Homo sapiens: one gene and its partners. The protein of the gene in region 2 interacts with the protein of the main gene of each other region in a pairwise test. Each region holds a gene or a part of one and is shown on either strand. Other genes may lie near its edges.

Region 1 (7,966 bases), on a different chromosome or scaffold from region 2:
TCCCTCCCGGACGGGGCGGCTGGCCGGCCAGAGGGGCTCCTCACTTCCCAGTAGGGGCCGCCGGGCAGAGGCGCCCCTCACCTCCCGGACGGGGCGGCGGGGCAGAGGCGCTCCCCACATCTCAGACGATGGGCTGCCGGGCAGAGACGCTCCTCACTTCCTAGATGGGATGGCGGCCGGGAGGAGGCGCTCCTCACTTCCCAGGTGGGATGGCGGCCGGGCAGAGACGCTCCTCACTTTCCAGACTGGGCAGCCAGGCAGAGGGGCTCCTCACATCCCAGACGATGGGCAGCCAGGCAGAGACGCTCCTCACTTCCCAGACGGGGTGGCGGCCGGGCAGAGGCTGCAATCTCCGCACTTTGGGGGGCCAAGGCAGGCGGCTGGGAGGTGGAGGCCGTAGCGAGCCGAGATCACGCCACTGCACTCCAGCCTGGGCACCATTGAGCACTGAGTGAATGAGACTCCGTCTGCAATCCCGGCACCTCGGGAGGCCGAGGCTGGCGGATCACTCGCGGCTAGGAGCTGGAGACCAGTCCGGCCAACACAGCGAAACCCCGTCCCCACCAAAAAAACACAAAAACCAGTCAGGCGTGGCGGCGCGCGCCTGCAATCGCAGGCACTCGGCAGGCTGAGGCAGGAGAATCAGGCAGGGAGGCTGCAGCGAGCCGAGATGGCAGCAGTACAGTCCAGCTTTGGCCCGGCATGAGAGGGAGACCGTGGAAAGGAGAGGGAGAGGGAGACGGGAGAGGGAGAGGGAGACGGGAGAGGGAGAGGGAGACGGGAGAGGGAGAGGGAGACGGGAGAGGGAGACGGGAGAGGGAGAGGGAGACGGGAGAGGGAGAGGGAGACGGGAGAGGGAGAGGGAGACGGGAGACGGGAGAGGGAGACGGGAGAGGGAGAGGGACTCTTTCACTTTCAATAGATCTCTTACTCATCCCTGATTTTGTAACATCATGCACTGGTCACCTGAAAAATAGTGCTCCACTGAGTTAAGCAGATCTTCCAAATGTTGATACATTTTATTCTATAATATCAAAAAACTACATTTCTTAGTATTGCCACTAACTCATTAATATAAAAAAACTACATTTCTTAATATCGCCACTGACTCATTAATATCAAAAAAACTACATTTTTTAATATTGCCACTGACTCATTAGAAAAGTCTTTAAGTACCAGGAAGCTGTCTAGAATTCTAATTTATACTTCAAATATAGATAAGGATGTAAATTGCAGCATTGCCTTCAAGGTGACCAATTCTTACTGACATAAATGTCCGTTAGTATGGAGAATGGTTGAATAAATCTAATACATCCATACAGATGAATTAAACAATTATTTTACCTTCCTGTATCTCTATGACATATTTTTAAGGAAAATAAAAAGCAAGTTAAAAACAACTTATAGGTGTGGCTACATTTAAACACAGTTGCCCTTACACAGAAACTTACCTGTGTATATGTAAAGAAGCCACAAAATGGAAACTGGGATTGTGCCCGCTCTACTGACAGTGGGGAACTCGACAGAGAGGGATGTTGACGGTGGAGGGGAGAGATGAGTAGGAATGGAGTCCTCATGTCTTCAGCTAATACTTAAATCTCCCACAACATGTATTTCTTGTGTAGTTTTTTTTTTCAAGTCTCGAACAAGAACATAATCACTTTTTTTCTCCGTATGCATCTTATTTAAACGGGTATTTTTTAAAGCCTTTCTCAAGTTTTAAGTTAGTGTCTAATTGTGTGCGTGCCAAAACTTCACCAGAGAGTTTATATCTGTTGGGAAGATTAAAGCATCTAAAACCTTTTCATTTTTGTCTTTAAACTTAGATACATATGATACTATTTTGCTTTAGAGGACATAAAGAGATGGTATCTGATTTCCCCCCTCACTTAATTTAGGTGGCTGAACTTATTTTACTCAAACTTTATTTTTTTTTTGAGACAGAGTCTTGCTCTTTCGCCCAGGCTGGACTGCAGTGGCACGATCTCGGCCCACTGCAAGCTCCGCCTCCCGGGTTCACGCTATTCTCCTGCCTCAGCCTCCCTAGTAGCTGGGACTACAGGTGCCCGCCACCATGCCCGGCTAATTTTTTGTATTTTTAGTAGAGATGAGGTTTCACCGTGTTAGCCACGATGGTCTCGATCTCCTGACCTCATGATCCGCCCGCCTCGGCCTCCCAAAGGGCTGGTATTACAGGCGTGAGCCACCGCGCCCGGCCATTTTACTTAAACTTTTCTAAGAAAATGTACCTTTGGAATAATTTCAAAGTTGGAAAATATCAACCAAAGACTAATTTTTTCACCCCCAAAATATGGAGAAACTAGGAGTCTTTGTTTTTAGAATACAAAAAGTTTATTTTGAGACTTTGAATTGAGACTATTAAATTCTAAAATAGATAACATTTGTTAAATTCTTGATTATTTGGATTTCCCCAATGTGGAATGGGGCTGGGCTGACATTTAATCATTGTGCTATTCTTAGGGGGAAATGGCTATAATAAGCAATTTAATCATAAATAGAATTATGGGAGGGAACTGTTGTCCGATCTCAATACAATGTAATAAAGTTAACTGCTTGGGACTACTATTTGATATACCAATTTGAATATTATTCTCATTTTTTTATTAAGTTAGGGAACATTCATTAGACAACCCTTAATTTATTTCTCGTTTGTTTTTTCCTTTTGTTGAGACAGAGTCTCACTCTGTCACCTGGGCTGGAGTGTAGTGGTGCACCTTCTCAGCTCACTGCAGCCTCAGCCTCCCAGGCTCAAGCGTTCCTCCCACCTCAATCTCCTGAGTAGCTGGGACTACAGATGTGTGCCACCACACCCAGCTAATTTTTGTATTTTAGTTAGAGACAGGGTCCTGCCATGTTGCCCAGGCTGGTCTCAAACTCCTGGGCTCAAGTGATCCTCTTGCCTCAGCCCCCAAAAGTGCTGGGATTACAGGCATGAGCCACTGTACTGGCCTCCTTCTTTTTGCTTTGATCTATTCTTAGAATTTATACTTATTTAAAGATATTCTCTAATTTATCTGTATACTAATTTAGGCAGGTCTTTACTCTTGTCCTTCATTTAGTCTAAATTAATAAGATCACATTGCGGTAAATGCAGATCTTTGCCAGAACAAGATTGGGCTATTAAAACTTAGCAAAATCATTATGGTGTTTGTAATGAAGCCATAGGAATAAATATTGTAAGTAGTCTGAGTTTTTTAATGAATAAAGAATGAAGTTTACGTTCAAATTATTGCAATGTTTCTTTTCTATAATATTAAATAAATTCTAGTATCTCTATCAACTGTGCTAGACGGGGTTATTTTATAATCTTGACTTTTTGTAGTCTAGTTAGGGGAACAAGACTAATACACATGAAACTGTTAAAGAATAGTTTGAAATCAGGTACTAAATTGTGAAGATGACAAGAAGGAGAATTGGAGTACATATAAAACTTGACAGGGAAGATATACTGGACAATGAATGTGAATTAGGTTTCTCATTTATTCAGTGTTTTCAGAGCATGTTCTTGTTCTCATTGATAACATTGGTGTTCTTTCCATCTTAGAGATAAAAAGATCAATCTACTCATTACAACTCAGTAAAAGCCAGTTCTGAGATTAAATTGCTAGAAACTTGAATATTGTTCTATTAATCCAAACATAAAGTTAATAGAGACCCAGATCAGGGTGGCAGCAACTGAAATGGGGTTGATATAAAAGCTGTTGAAGGAAAAATGAAATGGACCTGGTGATTAATAATACAGGAGATAGGCAGAGGAGGCAAAGATGACCACAGAGATGATGAGCCAGAGAAAAAGAGTGGAGAGGGATTGGTATTGCCAGAAGTTGGGAGAGGAGAAATTTTAGAGTAAAGTTAATTTTTCAACTTTTGGAATTTGGAGCCTCGGGGGAGGGAAGCTAGATGACCATCAATATAAAAACCCCAACATAAAAGCAGTAATCTGAAATACAGCCAAGACCCAAGACCTGAGCATCAACTTAGTGCCCTGCAGCCAGGAGGAAGAGGAATAACCGTGATGAAGAGAGTGTAGTGAAGGGGTACAACCAGGACAGTGGGGAGCAGCGAAGATCGGATGGTCAGCAGCCAAGCAAAGCCTCCTTTCCCATTGGAGAGACTCACAGATATGTGAAGGCAGGGGTTAGAGGGGTTTTGGTAGTTGCCACCAGTGATGGTTCCTAATTAGACTTCTGTAACCAGACATCATCATGGCTGTTCCACTAGTAACCAGCCTGTGTGTTTCCATCCTTCAGGTGGTATTGGAATGCTATGTAAGAAAGGACTTGGTCTACACCAAAGCCAATCCAACGTTTCATCACTGGAAGGTCGATAATAGGAAGTTTGGACTTACTTTCCAAAGCCCTGCTGATGCCCGAGCCTTTGACAGGGGAGTAAGGAAAGCAATCGAAGACCTTATAGAAGGTATTGAACTTGTCGCTGCATTCTTAGTGGGACTATGGAAATGTTCCAAATTATTTTTAATTCCAATAGTCTGCCATCATTTATTTGTGGTTTATTTGCGGGAGGGTTTGGGACCAGGTCAGTAGATGCCAAAACTTTTGGAATTTCCAAGGAGAGTAATTAAAGTGACAATTCAGGGAAAAGGAGATGGGTTTCAGAGTAAGGAGTAATCCCAATTGATTTTTAGACTCTGCTGTGAAAAAACAGGCAGGTTCTGGATTTCCATGTGCATGTATTTTTGACTGCTTTCACCTTGTCCTGACTATTGAAATGGCTTTGGTCTGGTCTGTCTTGGCTCAGAAGTAGAGAATGGATTCTGGCGGGCCCAGAAGGCTCCTGGCCTACCCACTGTCCTCCTGTAATCAGAGGCCCAGGGTGTACAGCTGCCACTGAAAAGGAAAGGGATCTGTGACCTCTGGAGCCCTGGTTCGGTTTAGGCCTTGGTCTATGGGTAAGTGAGTAGTAGGCATTGTGTTACATCTGATCGTGGCCTGGAGGGCCCTTGGGCAGTCAGTTCTCATGGTGGGCTTGACTAGAGTCCACAGATGCAAACACAAAAATTCTCCACTGCAGCACATCCAGGTATCAAATCAGAGGGTTAAAGAAGCCATAGACAGGGCCCTGTGAAGAAAGAAATATCAAGCAAGGCATGTTAATACCAAATTCAGATCTTGGGGAAATTAATCACAAAAGGATGTATGTTTCATTTGCTTAAGAAATAAAAGTGTTCTGAAGTCATTTTCTTCATTGTGGATTTGGGGGAAGAGGAAAAAAAGCAAGTCTTAAAAGACAAATTACTTAACATTATAATCAGTAGTAAGACAAGACTAGCTAGAACATGAATCCATAAACAAGTATGAGATAGCCAAAAAGAGATAATAAAAACCAGTGTTCAAATCATAGTTCTGACATAAGTGGCAAATATTTAAAATGTTATTAAACACAGCTTTTTCATGTTTAGAGAAAAAACAGCTCCTATATTATTGATAGACGTTCGCATTGTGTCCATGTACTTAATTGCACAACATTTCATTCTCCTACTTGTAATTTTTTTCTCTATATACATACTATCTAGCTTTTTTTTCCACCAGTTTTCCTAGAACATTGGTTGATTGGAGTAATTCAGAGTAGAGACAGCTCCCGAAAGACCAGTAGGAGTTGCACAGAACATACTATGGGACTGTTGTTTTTTCTCCTGCAGTCTCTCGTTGGAAATTTAAGTATTTCTCATCCTTTCTGAGCAATTGTTTTCATTTCAATTTCATGTAATAGCAAAATATTTTCTTTTTCTTTTTTTTTTTTTTTTGAGATGGAGTCTCCAGCCCAGGCTGGAGTGCAGTGGTGCCATCTCGGCTCACTGCAACCTCCGTCTCCCAGGTTCAAGCGATTCTCATGCCTCAGCCTCCCCAGTAGCTAGGATTACAGGCGCCCGCCATCACACCCAGCTAATTTTTGTATTTTTAGTAGAGACAGGGTTTCACTATGTTGGCCAGGCTGGTCTTGAACTCCTGACCTCGTGATCTGCCGGCCTCAGCCTCCCAAAGTGCTCGGATTGCAGGCGTGAGCCACTGCGTCTGGCCAGCAAAATATTTTCTAAATGCATATTTTAAAAGATCTAACCAAGAAAAGGAAAAGATAGAGAATAAATTTCCCTTTTGGTATATCTGTCACTGATGCAATTTTAAATATGTCTTTCTTTTGGCCAATTAAGTTGATCCATGCATTATTGTCTGCTATTCAGGGTGGTGGGGGGAAGTAGGGCAGTTGTACCTGATTCGCATACCAGAATGAAGAAAAAGGTGAACAAGTAATTACATTGAACTCTAAAATCCAATTGGTTCCATGATGGAATAAGGAGGGTTTTCTAACAAGAGCTGTAATTTTGACTTGGAAAAACAAAGCAAACTCACTGATGCCTTGGTATTGCAAGAGGAAACCCCCTTGCACAGGTGTCCCCTTAGAAGGGAGCCCACAATTTGGGATTTAGAAATACAACATCTGAATTCAGAACTGGACACAACCATACAAGCTATTGAGCTAAAATGCCTTCATTGGTAGGTGAAAAGACCAGAGGAGCTAAATCCAGTTTACACAGTAGATTGTGGCAGGTCTCACTTAGGGGTTCCCCGTCCAGTGCTTTTCCCACTACACGGCTGGGACCTCAAGGTCACTACAGAGGCTGGGCTCGATGCATGTCCCTCAGAGGAGTGGGCAGCCTCTCCCCTCACCTCCTCCACAGTGCCTTTCTGTGTGCTTATTCTCTAGCAGCGAGTGCAGAAGTTTGAGAGATTAATTGGGAACAACAGCAGGCAAAGTTAATTTAGGGAGCATCCTGGCAAGAATCAATTAAAGAAGAGTAAATTAAAAGCACTCAATTCCCAGGTAACTTGTTTCTGTTGGTAATTCACATGCAAAAAGAATGGAATGTGGTTTTATTAAAATATACTTTTTTAAACGGTTGGATTTGATGTATCCTCTTGGGAAACACTTTTTATTACATTTTTGTCTTTTTAGGTTCAACAACGTCATCTTCCACCATCCATAATGAAGCTGAGCTTGGCGATGATGACGTTTTTACAGTAAGTTTCCTTTGTCCTTTGCTTTCCAGATTAGTTGTTGAATAATCAGAGAAAGGTTTTGTTTAAGGGCATGAGGCACACTTTGCAATGCAGTGTTTGCTGTTGCTGTTTGGATGGCATCAGAGCGATCTCTGTCTTACTACAATTTTTCTCAGGCTGGGTTTGTCCCTGTTGCTCACGCTGCAGTGAGCAACACTGCACATCTGCCACACAGCACAGCAGTGTCAGCTCTCCCAGGTCTGTCCAAGGTTGTCTTAAAGTCTTTGCTCAGATTTAGGATGACCAGCTGCCCTGGTTTGCCCAAGTCTGTCCTGGTTTTAGCACAAAATGTCCCTAGTCCTGGGAAACACCTCAATCCCAGGCAAGCCAGGACAATCGCTTGCCCTATTTGGAGTCTTCTGTGAACACGCTTCCCTCCCTGGCATCAGGGGGGAAAGCCAGCAGTATCTTTCCTGATGAGTAATTAAACATCTGATAAGAAAGGCCTGCAGGCTGACTTAAGGTTAGGCCCAAGTGTGCTAACGCAGGAAAGGGTTTTTAGCTGTTTTGACACAGCTTGAGTTAATGGGATGTAACTGGAAACAAAATGATTTCTCAGCTTGCTGCTTCAGTTAAATCCTGTGCTTCTAGAAGTTAATTAACAAATAGTTCATTGCCTGCCTGCTGTGTGCTTAGAGCAGCAAGTTACGCGGGACAGCATTTTCTTTCTTTCCTTTTTATTTATTTATTTATTTTCAAAGATGGGGTTTCGCTGTATTGCCTAGGCTGGTTTTGAACTCCTGGGCTCAAGCAGTCCTCCAACTTCAGCTTCTCAAAGTGCTGGGATTATAGGTTTATAGGCTTTAGCCACCACGCCCAGCCTGGACAGCATTTTCAAATTCTGGGCCTTGACCCACAATAAGAAATAT
Region 2 (7,849 bases):
ATCCAGAGGAGTGACAAAGCTTGTCCAAGGCCTGGCAACTTGTAAGAAGTGGGTCAGGGATGGGTCTGAATCTTGGGCTTTTTTTGTTTTTCTTTTTGAGATGGGGTCTCGCTCTGTCACCCAGACTGGAAGGCAGTGGCACCATCACAGCTCATGGCAGCCTTGACCTGCCAGCTCAAGTGATCCACCTTCCTCAGTCTCCCAAGTAGCTGGGACTAAGGTACATGCCACCACAGCCAGCTTTTTTTTTTTTTTTGGTAGAGATGGTGTCTCGCTATGTTGCCCAGACTGCTCTTGAACTGGCCTCAAGCTAACCAAAGTGCTGGCATTATAGGCGTGAACCACCACACCCAGCCTGAAGCTTGGGCTTTTGAATGTCTTTAAATGGTCAGTGGTATATACCCTTTGTTCTTGCTCTTATCACCTAGTGTATCGGAGATTTTTCCACATCAGTACATATAGCGCTTCCTTTTTTCCTATGGCTACCTATTCCATTCCATGGCTGTAATTCAATAGTCGGTCCCCTGTTCTTGGGCACTTGAGTTGCTTCCAGTCTTTGGCCACAACAGTCGCACTGCAGTGAACACCCTTAACACTATGCTTTTTTTTCACATTCATGAGTTTATAGAATAAATTCCTACAAGTGGAAGAGTTGAGACAAGCATGTATGTATTTTCAATTTCTTAGATACCGTCATATGGCCAAAGTGGAGACACCAGTTTAAACTTTTAACAAGAGAGCCTGTTTGCCCACAATCCTCATCAACCCACGATAGTAGCAGACTTTTTACCTTTGCCATGTAAGTGTGTGGGGAGAAGCAGAGCCAGCGCTGTCAAACCACAGCTCCACGTCCATGGTTTGAGATCTCCCCAAAGCAGGGGAGCAAAGAGTTCCTCGGGCTTCTGAGCTCGAGCCCAGTATAAATGGCCAATCCCTTGCCCTGCCCTCTGCCAGCTATCTGGAAGAGGCGAGCTCATACAGTCGGTCTTAGAAATCCCACCTCTTACTGGCTAGGGCTGGCGGCAGAAGGGGACAGTGAGCCAAGGGAGGGCTCAGTCTCTCTCCCCCTTGTGCTCCACCTGGTGGTGGCTGCGTTGATGAAGGAGCAGTAAGCGTCTCTGGCCAAAGGCCTGGCCGCAGCTGGAGCATCGGTGCCAGGCAGTCGCCTGGCTGCCGGGCGCGGTTGGGGGGTCGTGACATAGGCGATGGGCGGCCAGCTTGGAGGGAAATGAGAAAGCCTTGGGGCAATGCGGGCAAGGATAGGGGCGGGCGTCGGTGGCGTGGTGCGTGTGGCGGTGGGCCGCCAGCTTGGAAGGGTAGCAGAAGGACTTGGGGCAGTCGGGGCACGGGTAGGGGCGGGTGGGTGCGTGGGTCCAGAGGTGAGCCGCCAGCTTGGAGCGGTGGCCAAAGGACTTCGGGCAGTGTGGGCACGGGTGCGGGCGGGCGCCGCTGTGCGTGAGGCGGTGGGCTGCCAGCTTGGAGGGGTAGGAGAAGGCCTTGGGGCAGTCTGGGCATGGGTGGGGTCGGGCGCCTCCGTGTGCTAAGCGGTGCGTGGCCAGCTTGGACGGGTACGAGAAGGCCTTGTCACAGTCGGGGCAGCGGTGCGGGCGCTGGGGCGGGGGCCGCCGGCGAGGCCGGGGAGGCGAGCCCGCGGACGCGGTGGGCCCTGGAGCTGACTGGCTGGGCTTCTGCGGTGGGCCCTGGTGGGGAGCTGGGGGACAGGAGGGCTGGTGGGCTCCAGGAAGCAGCCAACGCCCTGGGCCTAGGCCAGGCTCCGCCACGACTTTGATATTCGTGGGGCTCCTCCAAGTGTACCTGGGCACCTCAAGCATCACATTGAGACTCCCCAAATTGCATGTTTCTGCTCCCCCCTCCCCCCAGGCGTCATTCTGAGGGACTCCAAAGGGTTACTTTCCTGGATCCCCAAAGCTACTAAGGCTTCCTCAAAGCTACCAAGGTATCCGTTTCTAGTATCTTCCCAGTGATCACCCTGACATCCCGCATGTCATCCCTGACCCGTCCCTTCTGTAAGGCTCATTTCCTGAGCCTTAGCAAATGGTCACTGAGGCTCTCTCTGAGCCAAATGGGAGGATTTCCCAGAATGTGGCAGTTTTGGGGATCCCAAATAGTCATCACCCTAGGGCCCTCAAATTTTCACCCTGAGATTCCCCCAGAATGTGATTATTTTGGCCCCCGTTCCTGGAGAATGCTCCCTACTCACAGGCGGGGCACTCTCACCTTCTTTGGTCACTGGTTCCTTGCCAGTGGGACTAGGATCGGTAGCCCCGGCCGCGGACTCCGCGCCTCGCTCCAGCATCTTGCTGGCACAGGAACCTAGGGGCAGGGCGCGGGGCGGGGGTGACGCCGGTGATGACCAGGCTGATGGGGATAGGGTTGGAGGGCCTAAAATGAGGGATCACACTGTTTAGGAGCAAGGTCTGCAAGTATGGGATGCTAAGGCGGGGGCAGGCTTAGCGGGGAGGCGGAGCCTAAGAGCACAGTGAGCGGGGCTATGCAAATTCAAGCCAGAGGCAGTCCCTTCGCTATCTAAACCCAGGGTTGGAGTCTTTCAGCAGAGTGGGCGGAGTCTCCACAACTAACTCAGCGGCCGTCTTAAGCGCGGAGCCGGCGGGGCCTATGCGCAGAGTGGGCGGGACCTTCCCCACCAGACCCTGCAGTCCTGGAATGGGCGGGGCTGTACAAAAAAAGTCTTGTTCTGAAACTAGACCCAGGGGGCGGGGGCCTTCGAGCGGAGTGGGCAGGTCTTTCATCACCGTCCCAGGGGAGGGGCCTATGGGCACAGTGGGCGGGGCTTCACGTCGAAGACCTAGCTTTACCCGGCTTTTGACTTAGTCTCAGTTCATTGACGCCGCGTCAACTGCGCCCTTCTTGCCGTTAAATTTCATCCCTGGCTTGGATGGGGCCGTGGAGGATAGAGGGGGGACCTGGAGGAAGATACGGAAGGAACCTGGCATGCGTCGCGGTCCAGAGACCCCTAATGGACTTTTCCCTCAGAGTCCCAAGCGTAAAGGATTCAATGCACCCCTCGGAATCAGACATTCAGGCACCGATGCACCCTCCCGAGGCTCTGGCACCAATGCACAGTCCCTCCAGCATCTCCAGAATCTAGGCGTCCGGACCACAACCGATCTCCCTCGGGGTGATTCTGGCATTCAGCCTGCAAGCCAATATCCGCGCCCGAACCCCTGCGCCCTCACCTGCAGGACGGCCCCTCCCCGGGGGCGGGGCTTCCGGCTCCTCCCGCCACGGCCACGGCCGCAGCCGCTGTCGCCGCTGCTGCACTGCCCTCGGACCAGCGGAGCTGCCCCGCCCGGCGCGCGTCCGGCGTCGGGGGAGGGCAGGCAAGGGAGCGCGCGCAAGCTGCTTAGCCCAACCTCATTTCCATCCCCTCCTCCCACGCTGGACCAAAGGGGGCGTCAGAAAGCATGCGCAGTGCGGGCTGGCAGAGGCTGCAGAGAGGGGGAAGAAGGAATGGAAGGAGGGGCTGGGTGCGCCAGCCAGGCAGGCAAGTTCGTGAGCAAGCGCGAAGCTACCGTATCGACAGAAAGTGCACCGCCGGTGGCGGGGCCTACGGTGGCTGACTGGAGTCAAGCATGTACAAGACTAACATGGACAAACTGCGCTTGGAAATCAGTGCATGCACCCGTCTTTTTAATGTCCCTCTTCTTTTCGAGAATTCCGCTGAGTTCCATCTCCAGAGGCAGTTTCAAGAGCTCGCTGCTAATTCTACCCTTCAAGGCGTTTGCAAAAAGTCTGGCCAGTTCTTCGAGAGAGGGCGGGGGCGGGACTCCGGGCTCAAAGAGAGCCAGTGCCCAATAAAAGGCACGTTATTTGCACAGCGCCTTGGCACACCTCGCTATTGGGTGATTCAAGATTCTCAGCCACGCACCCATCTACCTTCCCCCTCGGAAGCCTGGGTGGTCCCGAGGTGCCCTGGCCCATGCTCTTGGTGCCAGGCCTGGGGTGGCATGCAGCTTAGCATTCTTCCCGAGCAGTGGCGGTGCACCTTCCTGCCTGGTGCAGAAAGGACCAGGAAATGCCCATAAAAGTCCTCTGCATGGGTGGGTCTCAGTCCGATAACCCGCAAGGTCTGGCGATCCCTGGGAGTTTGGCGGGGTTATTTGGACTCTGGAGCCAGATTGCCTGGGTAACTGGTTTGGAATACGGCTGTGCCACTTTCTAGCCGTGTGACCCTTTCTAGCTCTCTTTCTAGGCCTGTTTCCTCATCTATAAAATGGAGCGTTTTTAGGATTAAATATGATAATCAATGGAAAGTGTTTAGACTAGAAAGTGCCTAGGCCGGGCTCCCTGTCTCATGCCTGTAATCCCAGCACTCTGGGAGGCAGAGGCGGGCGAATCACTTGAGCCCAGGATTTCCAAACTAGACGGGGGCTAGGCACGGTGGCTCACGCCTGTAATCCCAGCACTTTGGGAGGCGGAGGTGGACGGATCACCTGACGTCAGGAGTTCGAGACCAGCCTGGCCAACATGGTGAAAACCCGTCTCTACTAAAAATACAAAAATTAGTCAGGCATGGTGGCACACGCTTGTAATCTCAGCTACTCCGGAGGCTGAGGTGGGAGGATGGCTTGAACCTGGGAGGCAGAGGTTGCAGTGAGCCAAGATCAAGCCACTGCACTCCAGCCTGGGCAACAGAGTGAGACTCCGTCTCAAAAAAACAAAAAAACCAAAAACCCAAACAAACAAAAATCCCAGCCTAGGCAACATAGTGAGACACCTCCCCATCTTAAAAAAAAAAAAAAAAAAAAAAAAAAAGTCTGGCTTAATGGCAGCCTGTAGTCCCAGCTATTTCACGGGGGTAGGGAGTGGGGACTCACCCAGGAGTTCATGTCTGCAATGAGCTATGATTGTGTTACTGCATTCCAGCCTGCGCAACAGAGTGATACCCCGTATCTTTAAAAAAAAAGTTTTTAAAATAATTATTCACTCATGACCAGTATTGTTTGATTTACCCCCCATCCACTCTTCCCAAATGATTCTGAAGCTAAATGTCAAACATCATATCTCATAAATATCTTTTTATTACACTTGATTTGCTTGACTTAAGATCTAAATGAGCTCCACACATTGTATTAGTTTGAAGTGACACTTCGGTCTCTCTCTCTCTCTTTTTTTTGAGATGGAATCTCGCTGTGTCCCCCAGGCTGGAGTGCAGTGGCGCAATCTTGGCTCACTGCAACCTCTGCCTCCCGAGTTCAAGCGATTCTCCTGCTTCAGCCTCCCAAGTAGCTGGGATTACAGGTGTTCACCACAACACCCAGCTAATTTTTGTATTTTTAGTAGAGACAGGGTTTCACCATGTTGGCCAGGCTGGTCTCGATCTCCTGACCTCGTGATCCACCCGTCTTGGCCTCCCAAAGTGCTGGGATTACAGGGGTGAGCCACTGTGCCCACCTCTTTCTTTTTTTGCACGGAGTCTTGCTCTGTCACCCAAGCTGGTGTGCAGTGGCGAGATATCAGCCCACTGTAACCTCCACCTCCCAGGTTCAAGTGATTCTCCTGCTTCAACGTCCTGAGTAGCTGGGATTACAGGTGCCCGTCACCACGCCTGGCTAATTTTTTTTTTTTTTTTTGTATTTTTGGTAAAGATGGAGTTTCACCATGTTGGCCAGGCTGGTCTCAAACTCCTGACCTCAGGTGATCCGCCCACTTCGGCCTCCCATGGTGCTGGGATTTCAGGTGTGAGCCACCGCGCCCAACCTCTAGGGCCACAGCTATTTTCAAGAACCATGATTTTAAGAAGGCAGAGTAGAAGCCAGAAGACCAGTGAGGGTATTGTTATATATTAATTACAGTATTAATTGCTAGCACTTATTATACACTGGAAACTGTCCTTATGTGCATTAATTTATTTAATCCCCATAGCAATGTTTTAAGAGGAGGTGCTACTATCATCCTTGTACAGAGGAGGAAAATGAAGTGTGGAGGGGAAGGTCATCCCAGCCAGGAAGTATCAGAGCCAGGATTTGAATCCCTCAGCCTGGCCCTGCAGTCCAGGCAATTTGCATTTATGCTTTGCTGCCCCTTGAATGGGGCAGAGGGTGTGATAACAGAAAAGTGGCCTGGTTAAGATAGGTTAAATCTGGCTGGGCACGGTGGCTCGGCCCTGTAATCCCAGCACTTTGGGAGGCTGAGGCAGGTGGATTACTTGGGGTCAGGAGTTCCAGACCAGCCTGGCCAACATGGTGAAACCCCATCTTTACTAAAACTACAAAAATTAGCTGGGTGTGGTGGTGTGCACCTGTAATCCCAGCTACTTGGGAGGCTGGGGCAGAAGAATCTCTGGAACCCAGGAGGCGGAGGTTGCAGTGAGCTGAGATTGCACCACCGCACTCTAGCCTGGGCAACAGAGCAAGACTCCATCTCAAAAAAAAAAAAAAAAAAAAAGAGAGAGAGTTTAACTCAGCAGGGCCTGGAAGTGGGTGGAGGTGGCAAGGGTAGGAAGGAGTCAAGGATAGTGACAAAATAATGATGGGCAGTTCCCATTGAGAGCCTGTGCTATGTCAGGCTATTGAACTATTTTCAACCTCATTTTGTAGATAAGAAAACTGGAACCCAGAAGAAGATAAGTTTTCAGCCCAAGGTCCTACACCTGAGAAGGGTGAAGCCAAGTCTAACTCTTAGAACATCTCACAGCTGAGCCTATAAACCCTGCCTAGGGTGTGTCTTCAAAGGACACATAAATGGTCTAGAAATTCTGCAAAAACAACGGGAAAGGGTGCCAGGGGCGAGAAGTTCTTATTTGGGGGACCCTCTCAGTAAGGAGTGCCTGAGGGTCTTCCTTTCCCTGGCTCCTCCCTCCCCTGAGTTCCCCAAATCCCTACACCTCCCTGTGTCTCAGACCTGCTTTCCCTACCTCTCTCGCCTACCAGCCAGACTGAGTCACCTCTGGGTCCTCAGCTTTGTCTAGCTTGAGTCAGGCATGCATGAGACCTCATGCCTGGAATTTTTTTTTTTTTTGAGACGGAGTCTCGCTCTGTCGTCCAGGCTGGAGTGCAGTGGCACGATCCCGGCTCACTGCAAGCTCCGCCTCCCGGGTTCACGCCATTCTTCTGCCTCAGCCTCGAGAGTAGCTGGGACTACAGGCATCCGCCACCATGCCCGGCTAATTTTTTGTATTTTTTTTGAGTAGAGACGGGGTTTCACCGTGTTAGCCAGGATGGTCTCAATCTCCTGACCTCGTGATCCACCCGCCTTGGCCTCCCAAAGTGCTGGGATTACAGGCGTGAGCCACCGCACCTGGCCTTTTTTTTTTAGACACTCTCGCTCTGTTGCCCAGACAGGGTTTTGCTATGTTGCAGAGGTGCAATCTTGGATCACTGCAAACTCTGCAACCTCTGCCTCTTGGGTTCAAATGATTCTCATGCCTCAGCTTCCCAAGTAGCTGGGTCTACAGGCGTGCCCCACCACGCCCAGATAATTTTTTTGTATTTTATTTTATTTTTTTCAGTAGAGATGGGGTTTTACCATGTTGGCCAGGCTGTCTCAAACTCTTGACCTCAAGTGATCTGCCCACCTAGGCCTCCCAAAGTGCTCAAAGTGCCTGTGCATGAGCTCAGCCATATGCTTTTTTTTTTTTTTTTTTTTTTTTTTTGAGATGGAGTCTCCATCACCCAGGCTGGAATGCAGTGGCACGATCTCAGCTCACTGCAACCTCCACCTCCCGAGTTCAGGCAATTCTCCTGCCTCAGCCTCCTGAGTAGCTGGGATAACAGGTGTGCACCACCACACCCAGCTAATTTTTATATTTTTAGTAGAGATGGTGTTTCACCATGTTGGTCAGGCTGGTCTTGAACTCCTGACCTCG
Region 3 (7,430 bases), on a different chromosome or scaffold from region 2:
CAGCTCTACTCAGATTCTGATGAGGAGGATGAGGATGAAGAAGAGGAGGAGGAAGAAAAGGAGGCAGAAGAGGAACAGGAAGAAGAAGAAGCAGAGGAAGACCTGCAGTGTGCTCATCCCTGTGATGCCCCTAAGCTGTGAGTTCCTGCCTTTGCACCTGCAAGTCCTTTCTCTGAGCCTCAATTTCCTCATTTGTTAAGAGGGACACAGGTGATGTGCTTGCTGGCAGGGTTGCTGGAACTAATTGAGAACACTGCCCTTAGCCCTGGTGGGCTGGGAACTGGGAAGCCCCACTCCCTGCACCCTGACTCCCATTCCTCCCTCCCCTAGGATTTCGCAGGAGGCATTGCTGCACCAGCACCACTGCCCACAGCTGGAAGCCTTGCAGGAGAAGCTGAGGCTGCTGGAGGAGGAGAATCATCAGCTGAGAGAAGAGGTGAGAATGGGGGAGGAGGGCGTCCCTGCTAGCAGGGGGTGTTGACTTCCCTGTCCCTTCCTCTTTGTCTCCCTCCAGGCCTCTCAACTCGACACTCTTGAGGATGAGGAACAGATGCTCATTCTGGAGTGTGTGGAGCAGTTTTGTACGTAATGTTGTCACTCGGGGTGGGGGGTTGTCCCAAGGAGCAGAGAAAAGAACTCAAGATGTGGAGTATGGAGATCCAAGTTCAAGTCCCAGATCTGGCACTCCTAGCTGTGTGAACTTGGATACATTCCTTGACCTCTCTGAACCTTTGTCTTTAGAATGGGGATTAATTTTCTCAGCCCCACTGATCTCTCCAGGGTTTATGAAGATTAAGAGTGTCAACAGCTGAGGAAGTACTTTGTGCAAACTATAAAGAGCTATACAGAAATTGTGGGTCTCAGGCCAGGCACGGTGGCTCATGCCTGTAATCCCAACAGTTTGGGAGGCTGAGGCCGGCGGATCACCTGAGGTCAGGAGTTTGAGACCAGCCTAACCAACTTAGAGAAACCCTATCTCTACTAAAAATACAAAAATTAGCCAGATGCAGTGGCACAAGCCTGTAGTCCCAGCTCCTTGGGAGGCTGAGGTGGGAGAATTGCTTGAACCTGGGAGACAGAGTTTGCAGTGAGCCTAGATCACGCCACTGCACCCCAGCCTGGGCGACAGAGCAAGACTCCATCTCAAAAAAAAAAAAAGGTGGGTCTCCTCCAAGCCTGTCTTCTCTTATTTGGGGCAGGCAAGAGGGAGCCATGAGCTGCCAGAGACCAGGCACCCAGGGCTGGGACAGTTCAGAGTCATGCACGGGGCAGTGGCTGTGCCTGGCATCGTCCTAGGCACTGTGTGTTTATGAAGATGAGTGAGGAGCAGTGTTTGTGCCTGAGGAGTTCAAGTGTAGCTGGTGAGATGCAAACGCAAAGTGGCAACAGCTGAACTCCTGCTGTTCCCTTTACCCCAGAACTGACCTTCCTTCCTGCTGGGTTCTGCAACTCCCTGAATGGCCCCACTGGTCCCCAGGCTACTGGAGTAGGAACCAGTCCCCAAGCTCTGTTGCTTTTACCTCCTAGGAATGGCTTAAGTCTTTTTCCCCCTCCCCACTCGGGCTGCCTCTAGCCCAAGATACCTCTTAACTGGTCGCACTGCCTCTACTCGCGCCCTACCAGGAACTTCTGCACACAGCCTTAATGAGTTTTCTAAAACCAAACCTGGCCAGGTGCAGGGGCTCCCACCTGTGGTCCCAGCTACTCAGGAGGCTGAGGTGGGAGGATTGCTTGAGCCTGTGAATTCTGGGCTGTAGTACACTATGCCGACAGGGTCAGTATGGTCCAGGGAGTGGAGTACCACTGGGTTGCCTGAGGAGGGGTGAACTGGCTCAGGTCAGAAACAGAGCAGGTCAAAACTCCCATGCTGATCAGTAATAGGATCGCACCTATGAATAGCCACTGTACTCCAGCCCCAGCCTGGGAACCTGGCAAGACCTCATTTTTTCTTTCTTTCTTTCTTTTCTTTTCTTTTCTTTTCTTTTCTTTTCTTTTCTTTCTTTTCTTTCTTTTCTTCCTTCTCTCTCTCTCTCTCTCTCTCTTTCTTTCTTTTTTTTTTTGAGATGGAGTACAGTGTTGCAGTCTTGGCTCACTGCAACCCCTGCCTCCTGGGTTCAAGTGATTCTCCTGCCTCAGCTTCCTGAGTAGCTGGGACTACTGGTGTGTGCCATCACGCCTGGCAAATTTTTTTTTTTTTTTTTTTTTGACGGAGTCTCACTGTCGCCCAGCTAGAGCAATGTCATGATCTCAGCTCACTGCAACCTCCGCCTCCCAGGTTCAAGTGATTCTCCTGCCTCAGCCTCCTGAGTAGCTGGGATTACAGGCCTGTGCTACCGTGCCCAGCTAATTTTTGTATTTTTAGTAGAGATGGGGTTTCACCATGTTGGCCAGGTTGGTCTTGAATTCCTGACCTCAAGTGATCCTCCCGCCTTGGCCTCCCGCAGTGCTAGGATTACAGGTGTGAGCCACCACGCCCGGCCAAGACCGCATTTCCTTTTTTTTTTTTTTTTTTTTTTTTTTTTTTGAGAAGGAGGCTCCCTCTGTAACCCAGGCTGGAGTGCAGTGGTGTGGTCTTTGCTCACTGCAACCTCCACCTCCCGAGTTTAAGCGATTCTCCTGCCTCAGCCTCCCGAGTAGCTGGGATTACAGGCATGCGCCACCATGCACAGCTAATTTTGGTATTTTTAGTAGAGATGGGGTTTCACCATGTTGGGCAAGCTGGTGTTGAAATCCTGACCTCAAGCGATCCATCCCCCTCAGCCTCCCAAAGCGCTGAGATTACAGGCATGAGCCACTGTGCCTGTCCCAAGACCTCATTTCTTAAAAAACAAGTAGCCGGGTGCAGTGGCTCACCCCTGTAATCCCAGCACTTTGGGAGGCAGAGGCAGGTGGATCTCTTGAGGTCAGGAGTTTGAGACCAGCCTGGCCAACATGGTGAAACCCCGTCTCTACTAAAAATACAAAAATTAACTGGGCGTGGTGGCGCATGCCTGTAATCCCAAGTACTCGGGAGGCTGAGGCAGGAAAATCGCTTGGACTCGGGCGGCAGTTACAGTGAGCCAAGATTGCACTATTGCACTCCTGCCTGGACGACAGAGATTCGGTCTCAAATAAATAAATAAATAAACCAACAAACCCAAGTCTGACCACGTCATTACTGTGCCTAAAACTCCCAAATAGCTTTCCATTGGCCAAAGGATAAACCCCACCCCCTTGCCCACTACTGTGGTCTGGCCTGTGTGCACTGTTCTGGGCCCTCCCCGTCCCAGTGTCTTATGATGGCCTCTGGGCCTTTCCAGTCAGCTTGGACCCATGTTTTTCCTTCTTTGCCTGGGTGAGCTTCACTTGCCCTGTGGTCTTAGCTTAGTGGTTCCTTTTTCCAGGAATCCTTCCTTACCTTGCAGGTCGGGTTGGGTGCTGTAGCTGTGATGCCCCTGCCCTGTACACCCTTGACATTTGCCCATCATGGCCTGTATGATGTGTGACTGTGGTCTGTCTCCCCACCAACTTTACCTCAGTGTGGCGGCTGGGTCTTACTGACCACTCACCCTGGTGCCCTGCTCAGTATCAGTCAATGAACATTTCTTGAATGGAAGACCTGAGTGAGGAATGCAAAGCCCTGCAGGACCCACTGGCACAGCGCAGCAGCCGAGGGTGGGGGAGACAGAGGCATCTGGGAGGGCCAGAGCTGGTCCCTGAAGGCCAGGGGAGCCAGGGCTGACCTGTCCTCTGCCCTCCCCAGCGGAGGCCAGCCAACAGATGGCTGAGCTGTCGGAGGTGCTGGTGCTCAGGCTGGAAAACTATGAACGGCAGCAGCAGGAGGTCGCTCGGCTGCAGGCCCAGGTGCTGAAGCTGCAGCAGCGCTGCCGGATGGTGAGTCGGGTGTGTGTGGAACCCTCTTGTCGTGGCCCCATGGGACCCTAGCTTCCTTCTTCCTGCCTCCACTCGGCTCCACCAGGCCTGAGGTCCCTTTCTGTGTCAGAGTCAGAGACCTCAGAGAGCCCCTTATCTTGACCCCTTGTTATCTTGAGGAGACCAAGGCCCAGAGAGGGTCCTGGAGTCTTCTAGGAACCAGGCTGCGTGACTCCCCTGCCTTCTTTGCCCTCCTTCCGTGTGACTTGTCATTTCATGGGCTGCCAAGGACTCACTGATGTGCCTGGGAAGACTTGCTGGAAGCAGGGGGTGCCCTGAGTGGGTAGGCCTCAGATGGGGGTTCACTGGTTTTGGGTCCTTCCAGTATGGGGCTGAGACTGAAAAGTTGCAGAAGCAGCTGGCTTCGGAGAAGGAAATCCAGATGCAGCTCCAGGAAGAGGTGAGTCTCGCTGCCGGCTTCTGCCCCCACCCTGGAGAGCCGCTGGCCCAGAGTGGGGACCCCAGGCCCTTGGCAGCTACCTGACTCTGGAGAGGACTAGCAGGAACTGAGTCTTGTCCGTTTCCACCCCCTCCATGCCTGGCACAGCCCAGCAGGTGACAGTTCCATCAAGGTCTGAGTGGTGTGGAGTGCAGGGACCTGCCCTGGGTCCCCCACATGACACTTGGAGTCCAGAACCTGGGCCTCTGGCCTCAGCCTGAGAGCAGATAGGCAGGAGTGCTGGACTGGGTGTGCCTGGGTCCCAGCAGAGCGTGTGGGTGGGTTCCCAGCTGCAGGACCTGCGGGAGAAGTACATGGATTGTGGGGGCATGCTGATTGAGATGCAGGAGGAGGTGAAGACCCTCCGCCAGCAACCCCCAGTGTCCACTGGGTCTGCCACCCATTACCCATACAGCGTGCCTCTGGTGAGGACCCTCCCCTGGCTGCCCACTTTCCTACGTCTGTGCCTGTGTCTCAGCCTTGGTGGCTGATTGAGATCCCAGTTCCCTTCTGTGCCTGAGCCTATGGGTGGGGGTTCTGTGGGGGTCCTCTGGTAACGTCTGTTCTCTCCACCATAGGAGACTCTTCCTGGTTTCCAGGAGACGCTGGCTGAGGAGCTCAGAACGTCTCTAAGGAGGATGATCTCAGACCCTGTGTATTTTATGGAGAGGTGCGTGGCTGGGGCCCTCCCTTGCCCCATAGGCCATGGCCTTTCCTGTAGTGGGGAGGGGGTTTGCCCTCACACTCTGACCTTCCACGCTTCCCTATACCCGCCTCGTTCACTGCATCAGCCCCTCCACTCATTGCTTCTCTATGAATATGGACCCATCACTTCCCCCTGAGGTATTTTTTTTTTTTTTGAGATGGAGTCTTGCTCTGTCACCCAAGCTGGAGTGCAATGGTATGATCTTGGCTCACTGCAACCTCTGCCTCCCAGGTTCAAGCAATTCTCCTGCTTCAGCCTTCCGAGTAGCTGGGATTACAGGCATGTGCCATCACGCCCGGCTACTTTTTGTATTTTTAGTAGAGACACAGTTTCACCCTGTTGGCCAGGCTGGTCTCAAGCTCCTGACCTCAGGTGATCTGCCCGCCTCAGCCTCCCAAAGTGCTGGGATTACAGGCGTGAGCCATCATGCCCAGCCTGAGGTTTTTTTTTTTTTTTGAGACGAGTCTCACTCTGTCACCTGGACTGGAGTGCAGTGGCGAGATCTTGGCTCACTGCAACCTCCATCTCCTGGGTTCAAGCGAGTCTCCTGCCTCAGCCTTCCAAGTAGTTGGGACTACAGGCACGAGCCTGGCTAATTTTTTTTTTGTTTTTTGAGATGGAGTCTTGTTTTGTTGTCCAGGTTGGCGTGATCTCGGCTTACTGCAACCTCCGCCTCCTGGGTTCAAGCGATTCTCCTACCTCAGCCTCCTGAGTAGCTGGGACTACAGGTGGCCATCACCACGCCCGGCTAATTTTTGTATTTTTAGTAGAGATGGGCCAGTAGAGATGTTGGCCAGGCTAGTCTTGAACTCCTGACCTTGTGATCCACCCGCCTGGGCCTCTCAAAGTGTTGGGATTATAGGCGTGAGCCACTGCACCTGGCCAAGCCCAGCTAATTTTTGTAGTTTTAGTAGAGACGGGGTTTTACCATGTTGGCTAGGCTGGTCTTGAACTCCTGACCTCAGGTGACCTGCCCACCTCGGCCTCCCAAAGTGCTGGGATTACAGGCGTGAGCCACTGCTCATGGCCACTACCTAAGGTTCTTCAGCTTGACCAAGCCCCAGGGACTGCAGTTTCGGCTTCCATTGTCTCATAATGAAGGTCCTTTTCTCTTTGAAGGAATTATGAGATGCCCAGAGGGGACACATCCAGCCTAAGGTAAGCCTGCCAGGGGCTCCCCTACAACCTGCCCTCAGCTTTCAGCAGCCAGACAGCCCACCTGCCTCTGGTTCTGCCACCCTGCAACTCCGGAGAAGGCCCTGCTATCTCGGCTGGCTGAACTGAGAACTGTTCTGGGAAGGAGCTGCCCCACTTTTCCTTCAAATCTTGCCCCCTGGGTGGCCGTCTGATTCCAGGCAGCTCTGAGTGGGGACTGAAGCTTTCTTTTCAACTGACTATGGGCTGAGAGGTGACAGGCACTGGCTTAGGAGCTGGGAACACCTGGGACTAAGGCCCAGCGTGGTCCCTTTCCTGACTGTGTGTCCTTGGGCAAGTCATTTGACCTGTCTGAGCCTGTCTAGAATGGATTTGTTCCTATGGCAAGTAGCTGTGGGGTGGGCTATGAAGGTTAAATCATGCAGGAGGGAGGCAGAAGTGGGTGTTAACCCTGTTGGTGTATTCCGTGCAGGGTCAGGGACATAAAAGAAGATGGGGCCTATGCAGTGTTGGTGACCATTCTTCCTCCCTCCCACCAGGGGGATGGGCTGGGTATTTGAAGCCTTGGAGCTGGTACCTAGCTCCCCTCTCCCCTGGCTGGGACAGAACCAGGAGGAACCATCAGGATCTGTGTGGAGACGGGTGGGGGTGGGCCTGGGGGGTTGGACTTTCCAGCCCCTCAAAAGATGTCGCTATCTCCCGCCCAGGTATGATTTTCGCTACAGTGAGGATCGAGAGCAGGTGCGGGGGTTTGAGGCTGAGGAAGGGTTGATGCTGGCAGCGGATATCATGCGGGGGGAAGATTTCACGCCTGCGGAGGAGTTCGTGCCCCAGGAGGAGCTGGGGGCTGCCAAGAAGGTGCCGGCTGAGGAAGGGGTGATGGAAGAGGCAGAGCTGGTGTCAGAGGAGACCGAGGGCTGGGAGGAGGTGGAACTGGAGCTGGATGAGGCAACGCGGATGAACGTGGTGACATCAGCCCTGGAGGCCAGCGGCTTGGGCCCTTCACACCTGGACATGAATTATGTCCTCCAGCAGCTGGCCAACTGGCAAGATGCCCATTACAGGCGGCAGCTGAGGTGGAAGATGCTCCAGAAAGGTGAGTGCCCCCACGGGGCCCTCCCTGCCGCCAGCCGGACAAGCTGCAGATCGTCGTGCCGATGAAAAGAGAGGGTGGATAAGCTCCCCGAGTGCTCACCTGCCCCAGCCTGGCTCTACCTG
Region 4 (7,966 bases), on a different chromosome or scaffold from region 2:
TGGCTCTCTGCTGGGCCCTGGGGAGATGGGGATGGCCTGGATAGAATGGAGCAACTTGTCTTTATTTCTCTGTCTCAATCATTCATTTAACAAATGTGTTGGGCTGGGCACGGTGGCTTACGCTTGTAATCTCAGCACTTTGGGAGGTTGAAGTAGGAGGATCACTTGGGCCCAGGAGGTTGAGACTACAGTGAGCCCGATTGTGCCACTGCACTCCAGCCTGGGTGACAGAGTGAGACCCTGTCTCTAAAACAAACAAACAAACAAACAAACAAACAAATGTGTTGAATATCAACTCTGTGTCTGTGGCAAATGTGCTTCTAGGTGCAGGGATATTGTTGTGCACAGGCCCGGTCTCTGTCCTCATGGAGCTTGATATTTACCTTCTTGTCAGTTCATTCATTTTCTCTGTTTGCATCTCGTTTACCCATCATGCATGGTGTCATGCTGGGTTCTGAGAACACATAGATGACCAGGCCCCAGGCCTTGCCCTTGAGGAGCCGGTAGGCCCTTGGGAGACACAGACCCAACCCAGATAACAAGAGCTCAGAGTGGGGGCCTGTCTTGTGCTCCTTGCAAGTTAACCTCCCCACCTTTGCAGCTTTGGAAGCTACTCTCACCACTGTGTATTCTCTTTATGAGCGTCTTGTCTGTGTGCAGGAAGATCCCTGTCCCCATTTTGCAGATGAAGGAGCTAGTGTCCACAGAAGAGTGGTTGCACAGCCTGTGGCCCGGCTGGGACTGTCCCTTCCTCCTGCCACCTCCCCAAGGACACGTCCATGTTGGCCACTTCCCAAGCCTAGCCATGTTTTCAGTTCTCATGACCCCCTCTGTGGGGGAGGGACAGGATGGGCCTCTGCCTGTTACTGCTGGGGCTGTCCATGAACTGCCGGGGAAATGACTCATCCTGGGTCACACAGGGGCACTCTGGCTGGGCCAGGGGTGCAGAATCAGGGGTCCAGGGCACTGTCCACATGGCCTATCCAACTCCTGCTTCCCAAGCCTGGCTTCTCTTCTTGCCTGAGGAGAGAGCCAGTGGCTGCCCCAGCAGGTGCCTGAGTCCTGGGCACAGCTGGGAGGGCAGATGTCAGGAGAGAGGTGTGATCCTCCCTGGGGCTGCTTGGTAACTCGTCTGCAGGGCGTGGAGCTGGCTCCCTGGCCCTTGGGCCCTGAGGTTAGACCTGGCTTGGTGGGGAGTTTGACTCTGGGTGGGGCCAGGGGGCAGACCTCTGCACTGAGCCTGGGGAACAGGAAACATGTCACCCACCACCACCAGGGAGGGCCTGGGGTAAGCTGGCCTTGCTTTCCTTTACCAAGAGGTTGACTTCTATAACTTCTCCAGCTCCCAGCCTCCTTTCTCCCCTTGCTATATCCTCTTCCTCTTCCTTTCTTTCTGTTTTTTTTTTTTTTTCTCTCATCTCTACCTTTCTTCCTCCTCCTCTGAACTCCAGGAAACACAAACCTGAGTGCTAGTCTTGGCTCTGCCCCTAGATTGCTGTGCGTCCCCGGGGAGTGCCTTTGCCCCTCTGGGCCTTAGTTTCCTGATCTGTAAAACAAGGGAATGGGGTCCCAGTGAGCCATCAGGCCTTCAAGGGAGTGGGTGGGAAGGGACTCCTGGGGAGGGTATGGCTCAGAAACAGAATGACACCTTAGCTCTGGCTCTGAGCACTGGGGCAGGAGTAGGGCAGGGGAGGTGGCCAGGCCTGCTGGGGGCCCACTGGGGCAGGTGTCTCCCTGAGCACAAGTGGGAAGGCTGGTTCAACCAGCTCCTTAGATGGCTTGTTCCTGTGCAGGCAGCAGGAGGGGGAATGCAATGATTAAACAGATGCTCCCATGCAGTGGCTGGGGACCCCCCACCCAGAGCAGAGCTGAGGACATTAGGGCAGCCCCACACCTAGGAAGGACACCAGGGCCTCCCAGGCTGGGGGGAAGCCAGACCAGCCTTTCTGACCCTGGGCAGAGAGACAGAGCTGAGATAGGCCATTTCTGAGTTTCTACTTGAGGTGTTTCTAAGAGTCAGAGGCCACTGTCCTCTGTGCTGGTGCATTTGACCTGAAACAGAGGCCAGCCCACTGCCTTCCCTCCCCGGGAGGACCCCTCCCAATGGGCCAAGCCCTCTCTGGCTTACTCTAAGTTCTGGGCTCTGCACTGCTCCTCCCAGGCCTGTGGTGTGGGGCAAGTTAGGGAGGGGGTACTGAGACAGAACTGGACAGGCTTTGGGGACCACAGCCCAATGGGAGTGATAAGGAGGGGGTCCTAATGCTGGCCTTAGGGGTGGAGCCCTTCTCAAAGAAAAGAGAAGAACAGTTGGGTCCTGGGCCCCCAGGATTCTGTCCAGCCTGTCTGGACATCTGAATGGGTGGTGAGTGTGTGGGAGGAAGGACAGTGGAGGCCTAGGTGGGAGTCAGGAGACCAGGATTTGGACAAACTTTGCATCTGACATGACTTTGGGAGAGATTTCTCCCCTCAGTCTCTAGGTGAGTAAAATGGGACCCGAGGGTCTTCATTTCCTTAGGAGGGCTCCATGTCATGTGAAACTTACATTAAACAAATTTGTATGCTTTTCAGAAAAATAATAAAATGAAATAAAATGGGACATAAACCCTGGCTGGAGCTGAGAGGAGCCTGGTCCTCCCACGGGCCTAGTCCCTGTAGCCCAATCCAGGGGTCTCCTAAGAGAAGGGTAACCATATAATTAACCAGGGCAGTTTGGGGCATAAAAGGGGGCCCTAGCAATAGTGATCCCGGGACAACAGGGGAAAGTAACTGTCCAGGGCAAGCTGGGACGTATGGACCCCCAACTTGACAGCCAGCAAGAGCGGGGCTGGTCCTAAGGCTCACGACAGGTCAGGAGGGCGATGTGGTCACTTCCGTTTTACAGACGAGGTGCAGCGATGCAGATGAGCCTCAGAGCAGGAGCTGGAGTCCAGTGTGTCTGGCTCCGCAGCCCAGGCTGTTTCCACTGTGCCCTCCCAGATGGGGGAGGGGATCCCCAGGGATGGAGAGCTGAGCCAGAAGGCGAAAGAGGAGGGAGGAAGGCTTGGGTGCTCCTTCACTGGTCCTGTGGGCTAGAGAGAGGCCCAGGACCACAGAGCTTCCATGGAGGGGCCATAGGGACAGCGTGGCCAAGGCAAAGTGGCGACTGTAGGGACAAGTTCTTGCCTGGGGGATGGGTGGGTTCAGCCTCTGGGTTCTGAGCCATCATCTAGCCTTCCCTCTACCGCTCATCCTGTAATCTCAGCACTTTGGGAGGCCGAAGTGGGCGGATCACAGGAGTTCGACACCAGCCTGGCTAACATAGTGAAACCCTGTCTCTACTAAAAATACAAAAAAATAGCCAGGCATGGTGGCAGGTGCCTGTAATCCCAGCTACTTGGAAGGCTGAGGCAGAAGAATTGCTTGAACCCAGCAGGCGGAGGTTGCAGTGAGCCGAGATCAAGCCACTGCACTCCAGCTTGGGCAGCAGAACAAGACTCCATCTCAAATTAAAAAAAAAAAAAAAAAAGAAAAGAAAAGCAGTTTTCAAGCCATAACATGTAGCATCTGGAGCTTCTATTGTATCTCAGGTGCGCTCCTTTGAACTGTGTACATATTAGTTCAGTTAAGCCTCAACTATACTATAGGGCAGGTACTATTATTATCCCATTTTACAGATGTGGAAACTCCTTAAAGCACTATACCGTGTGAGAGGTTGTCAACAGCATCACATCTAGTGCAACCTGTCCCACTGGGCAGTGGGGAGACCTGGAGCCCAGGCAAGAGCAGTGGCTTGCTGGAGAGGATACAGCTAGGACTAGGACTCAGACCTCCTGCTCCCTCCTGCCCCCAACCTGGGGTGGATGTTAACTGTCTCCAAGAGGCAGGGGCAAGATGGATTGAGGTGGGAGCTTAGGGAATATCCCTGGGACTTGCAGCTGGTGGGCTCCAACCCTCCTTTCTGCATTTTTGGGACCCAGCCTGTAAGAGGAGTGCTGAGGCAGGAGGTCCCCCTGGGTCCTCAGCTCTCAGGTTAAGTCTTAAGTAGAATGTCGGGGGGATGCTGGACAGGCCTGAGCCCTGACTCCCAGCCTGTGGGGTGGGGTGCATTAGCATTAGCTGGTCCTGGCCCCAGAGCTGAGTCACAGGGTGGAGGGGTAACGGAGAACAGGGTGGGGCCTCTGTTTCCCCCCGACCTCTGCAGCCTTTGCTCCCCATCCCTGGCCTCCTGCCTGTCTGTGGATACCTAACCATTGCAATGGGTTCATTCTTACTCTTTGGGCTCCTCATCAGCAAAAGAGGCCTTTCCTTCCTCTAAGGCCATGGACAGGAAAAGTCTATAGATGCACTTCCACTGTGCCAACTTTCTCGGCAGGTGGAATCCAGGCTAGTTCAGTATCTCCTCTTTAGCTAGGTTCCTTCTGCGGAAGTTTAACTCCAGTTTCTTCACCCTGCTGTTTTCTACCTTTCTTCTTACGGTTCTTCCTACTCCTTGGGACCTTCTTGAATCCCTGTGTCCAACGTCTGGGGGCCCCACACATATGCCTGAAGGACCTGGCATGGGCTCCCTGCAGCAGAAGTGGTGTCCGACCCCCAGCTGTGGAGGACCAGGCAGGAAAGAGGCTGGGAGTCCTGGGCAAGTTCCTGCCCCTCAGGGCCTTGGCCTCCTCTGTACAGTAGTAGGATGGAGGTGGAATCGAGGGTTGGACACCTGATCTTTTGGGCCTTTCTAGCTCTGAAGTCTCTTACTGGGTCCTATCCTGGGCCTTGGGGTGATCCCCCTTCTGCTGCCCAGGGCTGGGCTGTTGAGATGGTGCAGGAGGTGGTCCAGGGAAGGTGGCAGAAGGACTGAGTGGGCTGGGAGCTGGGGAATGCAGATTTCTTTTGGGCGCTGTGTGAGCAGCCCTGGAGACTCTCTGAACTTGAGTCTGTTTGCCTGAAATGCTACTATTAGCCGATTAGCCATGCACTTATCAACTAACATGGATGTTGCCCCTTCTAAAGGCATCCAGAGTTATTCCCAGCATGTAGAGCCCTGGGCCTGATATACAGTAAGTGCTCAATGAATGCATTTAGAATGCACTGGACAATTTGAGCCAGGGAGTGAAGAGAATATTATCTAGACAGCCCTCAAGAGCCCTCCTTAAAGGAGAAGTGGGAAAGCATGGGTATTGAGCATGCTATCTGTGTGTAGTGGGTGCGTTTGCAGTGCTCAGGGGTGTGCTGTCCTCTATGCCAACCCTTCCCTGCTCCTAATCTTCTTTGTATGGTGGATTCTCTGCAGCCCTCGGCGACTGAGTGCCAGGCACAGGCAAACTTCCTTCTCTTCCCAGCAACTGTCCCCACTGGCTTAAAGGCAGAATTCGTCAAGTCCCTTTTAATTCAGAACTGAAATTCATTCACCAGCTGCTTGTTCATTCATTCAGATTCTTCTAAATTGGGTCCTCTGCCCAGGTTCATCTCCACCCCCCATCTGTCACCTGGTTATTACACAACCTCCTCGAGTTCCCTGGGGGCTGGGATGAGGAGGGAACAGGGCGTGCATGTCTGGGAGATACACCAGGTGGCCTTTGAAGAGTTGTTTTAGAATCAGCAGTGTGATGGGGGTGGGGGTGGGGAGCCAGGGCACAGGTGACATGGGAGAGACATTCTGTCAGGGGAACTGGGAGAGGCTCCAGTGTAGAAGTGGCACCTGATCGGGGCCATGAATTATGAATAGGAATCCAGGGGGCAGAGGTAGGAAGGTAGGAAAGAGCCAGGTGAGTTTGACGAACATGGGGGTCAGTGTGGAATGCGTGCAGGGGCCAACTCCCAGAGGTGAGGGCCCCCCAGGCCAGGCAGATTGGTGTGGACCTTGATCTGTAGGTAGTGGAGAGCTAGGAAAGGTGCCCAGCTTGGGATACCTCTTTAGATGCTGCAGAGAACCTGTCAGAGGCTGGGGCGGAGGGCAGGGAGACGTGGCGGGGCTGTTGTAGCAGTCCAGTGAGGGACAGGGTTGAATCAGTTCAGCAGGCCTATATCAGGATCTGCTGTGGGCCAGGCCTTGTTCTGGGTACCAGAGACACAGAGAGGTTGAGGACAGGCTCTATCCTCATTGAATTCATAGTCCATCAAGCAGGGCTGTGACTGGTCACATGTGGGCTACTGGTGGCACTGCACATTTGGAGAGAAGATGATGTGCTTGGTTTAGGAGGTGCTGAGGGTGATGGCTTGGGTAACATCCTGGCAGAGACACCCAGGTGGCTGGAATGTGGGTCTGGGGCTCAGGAATGACGTCCGAGTTGAGCTGATGAGGGTGCTGTCTGCCCTCAAGGGTACAGGGAGCACATGGAGATCAGAGCCCTCACACGCTGTCCTCTGCTCTGCCTATGCCAGGCGCCTTCGCCAAGGTGAAGGAGAGCCAACGCATGAGTGACGAGGGCCGCATGGTGCAGGACGAGGCAGACGGCATTCGCAGGCGCTGCCGCGTGGTGGGTTTCGCCCTGCAGGCCGAGATGAACCACTTCCACCAGCGCCGTGAGCTCGACTTCAAGCACATGATGCAGAACTACTTGCGCCAGCAGATCCTCTTCTACCAGCGGGTGGGCCAGCAGCTGGAGAAGACCCTGCGCATGTATGACAACCTCTGACCGCGTGTGCCTGGGCCCCCTCCTTCCCCTGGGCCTGGTCACTGCAGTGTACCCCACTTTCCCGACCTCCCTATACCAGCAGTGACTGGGGGAGGGGTCAGCGGTGGGGGAGATAAGCGGCCTGTCCTGCCTCCTGGGAGAAGGAGCTTTCAAGGAGTCATGGGTGCCCCTGGGAAATTCCCCACTCCTTAGAAGTGGGGCACAGCAGGGGTGAGAATAGAGTCAGGAGCCCTCGAGGCCAAGGCCTGGGCTGCCGGTCAGTCAGTGAAGGTCAGGCCAGGGTCTCAGCCTCCCCTAGAGCCTATTTTGCTTGCTCACCTGGCCACTGCTGCCTTATCCATTCAGCAGACACCGAGGCCTGCTGCACCCTTGGGTCGGATGCTGGGCACCCAGGGCTGTGACATGCCTGCTCTTCAGGAGTCCTCAGTGAAGGTCGGGGTCAGACACAGACAGAGTCAATGCAGTATGACTGATGTTTAAGTGAGGGATTTCTGGAAGCTCATAGAAGGGACCACAGCATTCCACTGGTCAGGGAAGACTCCATAGAGTAGGCAACATTTGGGCAGTGTTTTGAAGAATGACAAGGGCCTGCCAGACAGTACATGGGGGAGAAGGACTTTCAGGGGAGAGGAACAGCATGGGCAAAGTTATGGAGGCATGCAAACATCTCCCTCTTCTCTCCCTTACTTTCCAAGCAAGTTAGGTACGCTTTCCATGGGGATTCTGGCCTGTGTGGTAGGAAGGGATCTCCCTTGCTCCCATGTTGCTGGCTGTCCGTACATCACCCTGTCCCCTGCAGGAGGGGGCTACAGGCCATCTCCCTCCTGTAGGCCTCTGACTCCCCTCCACTTTTGGGCCCTCAGCTTATCTCGGGCAGGGGACCATTGCAGCATCCTCCCCTCCTCGGACTCAAGGTGCTGAGGTATAAGCCCTGGGCCCCAGATCCCTGGTGACACCTTCCTGGAGAAGACTCTCAAAAGTGACTGTATATTTGAGTTCACCAGCAATAACTCCCCACACTCGAAGCAGGTCCAAACCCAGGATCTCAGGGTCCTTGGGCTCTGTGGCACTGTCTTCCCAAGATCCTTCCTGTTGCACAATGGGAAACCTAAGAGGAAAAAGACAGGGGCCTGCTTGCCCAGCCATGCGAGGGATTCCATGCCCACCTGCCCTCTGTCTGCCTCGCTGGAATGTGGGCCCCTGCTCCCCGTCAGGTTGTGCTGTCTCTGACCTATGTTTACATCCCCGAGGGGTTTCTGCCTCCTCCCCACCCAGGTCAGGGTGTGGTCCAGCAGCTTGCTGTGGGGTGCTGACATGTGTCACCACTGCCCCCCTTGCCCCCGGGGGGGTCATGGTCTCCT

What was found.
Region 1: the proteins of ZNF575 (region 2) and SPRED2 interact in binary tests that used the Homo sapiens proteins (3 or more experiments, as listed by UniProt).
Region 3: the proteins of ZNF575 (region 2) and HAP1 interact in binary tests that used the Homo sapiens proteins (3 or more experiments, as listed by UniProt).
Region 4: the proteins of ZNF575 (region 2) and SNX33 interact in binary tests that used the Homo sapiens proteins (3 or more experiments, as listed by UniProt).

What each region holds. Positions count from the first base shown.
Region 1 is NC_000002.12:65,331,079-65,339,044, reverse strand, and holds part of SPRED2 (sprouty-related, EVH1 domain-containing protein 2), read left to right. Parts: intron 1-4,271; coding exon 4,272-4,440; intron 4,441-4,457; exon of another isoform or gene 4,458-4,926; coding exon of another isoform or gene 4,927-4,930; intron 4,931-6,993; coding exon 6,994-7,058; intron 7,059-7,966. UniProt on the Homo sapiens protein: Negatively regulates Ras signaling pathways and downstream activation of MAP kinases. Recruits and translocates NF1 to the cell membrane, thereby enabling NF1-dependent hydrolysis of active GTP-bound Ras to inactive GDP-bound Ras.
Region 2 is NC_000019.10:43,528,891-43,536,739, reverse strand, and holds ZNF575 (zinc finger protein 575), read right to left. Parts: upstream 3,553-7,849; 5' UTR 3,219-3,552; exon of another isoform or gene 2,946-3,218; 5' UTR 2,838-2,945; intron 2,404-2,837; 5' UTR 2,318-2,403; coding exon 2,239-2,317; intron 1,712-2,238; coding exon 1,053-1,711; 3' UTR 653-1,052; downstream 1-652. UniProt on the Homo sapiens protein: May be involved in transcriptional regulation.
Region 3 is NC_000017.11:41,724,644-41,732,073, reverse strand, and holds part of HAP1 (huntingtin-associated protein 1), read left to right. Parts: coding exon 1-137; intron 138-330; coding exon 331-436; intron 437-514; coding exon 515-581; intron 582-3,742; coding exon 3,743-3,873; intron 3,874-4,141; coding exon of another isoform or gene 4,142-4,237; coding exon 4,238-4,312; intron 4,313-4,641; coding exon of another isoform or gene 4,642-4,776; intron 4,777-4,929; coding exon 4,930-5,021; intron 5,022-6,176; coding exon 6,177-6,215; intron 6,216-6,919; coding exon 6,920-7,373; 3' UTR 7,374-7,430. UniProt on the Homo sapiens protein: Originally identified as neuronal protein that specifically associates with HTT/huntingtin and the binding is enhanced by an expanded polyglutamine repeat within HTT possibly affecting HAP1 interaction properties.
Region 4 is NC_000015.10:75,650,611-75,658,576, forward strand, and holds part of SNX33 (sorting nexin-33), read left to right. Parts: intron 1-6,351; coding exon 6,352-6,605; 3' UTR 6,606-7,966. UniProt on the Homo sapiens protein: Plays a role in the reorganization of the cytoskeleton, endocytosis and cellular vesicle trafficking via its interactions with membranes, WASL, DNM1 and DNM2. Acts both during interphase and at the end of mitotic cell divisions.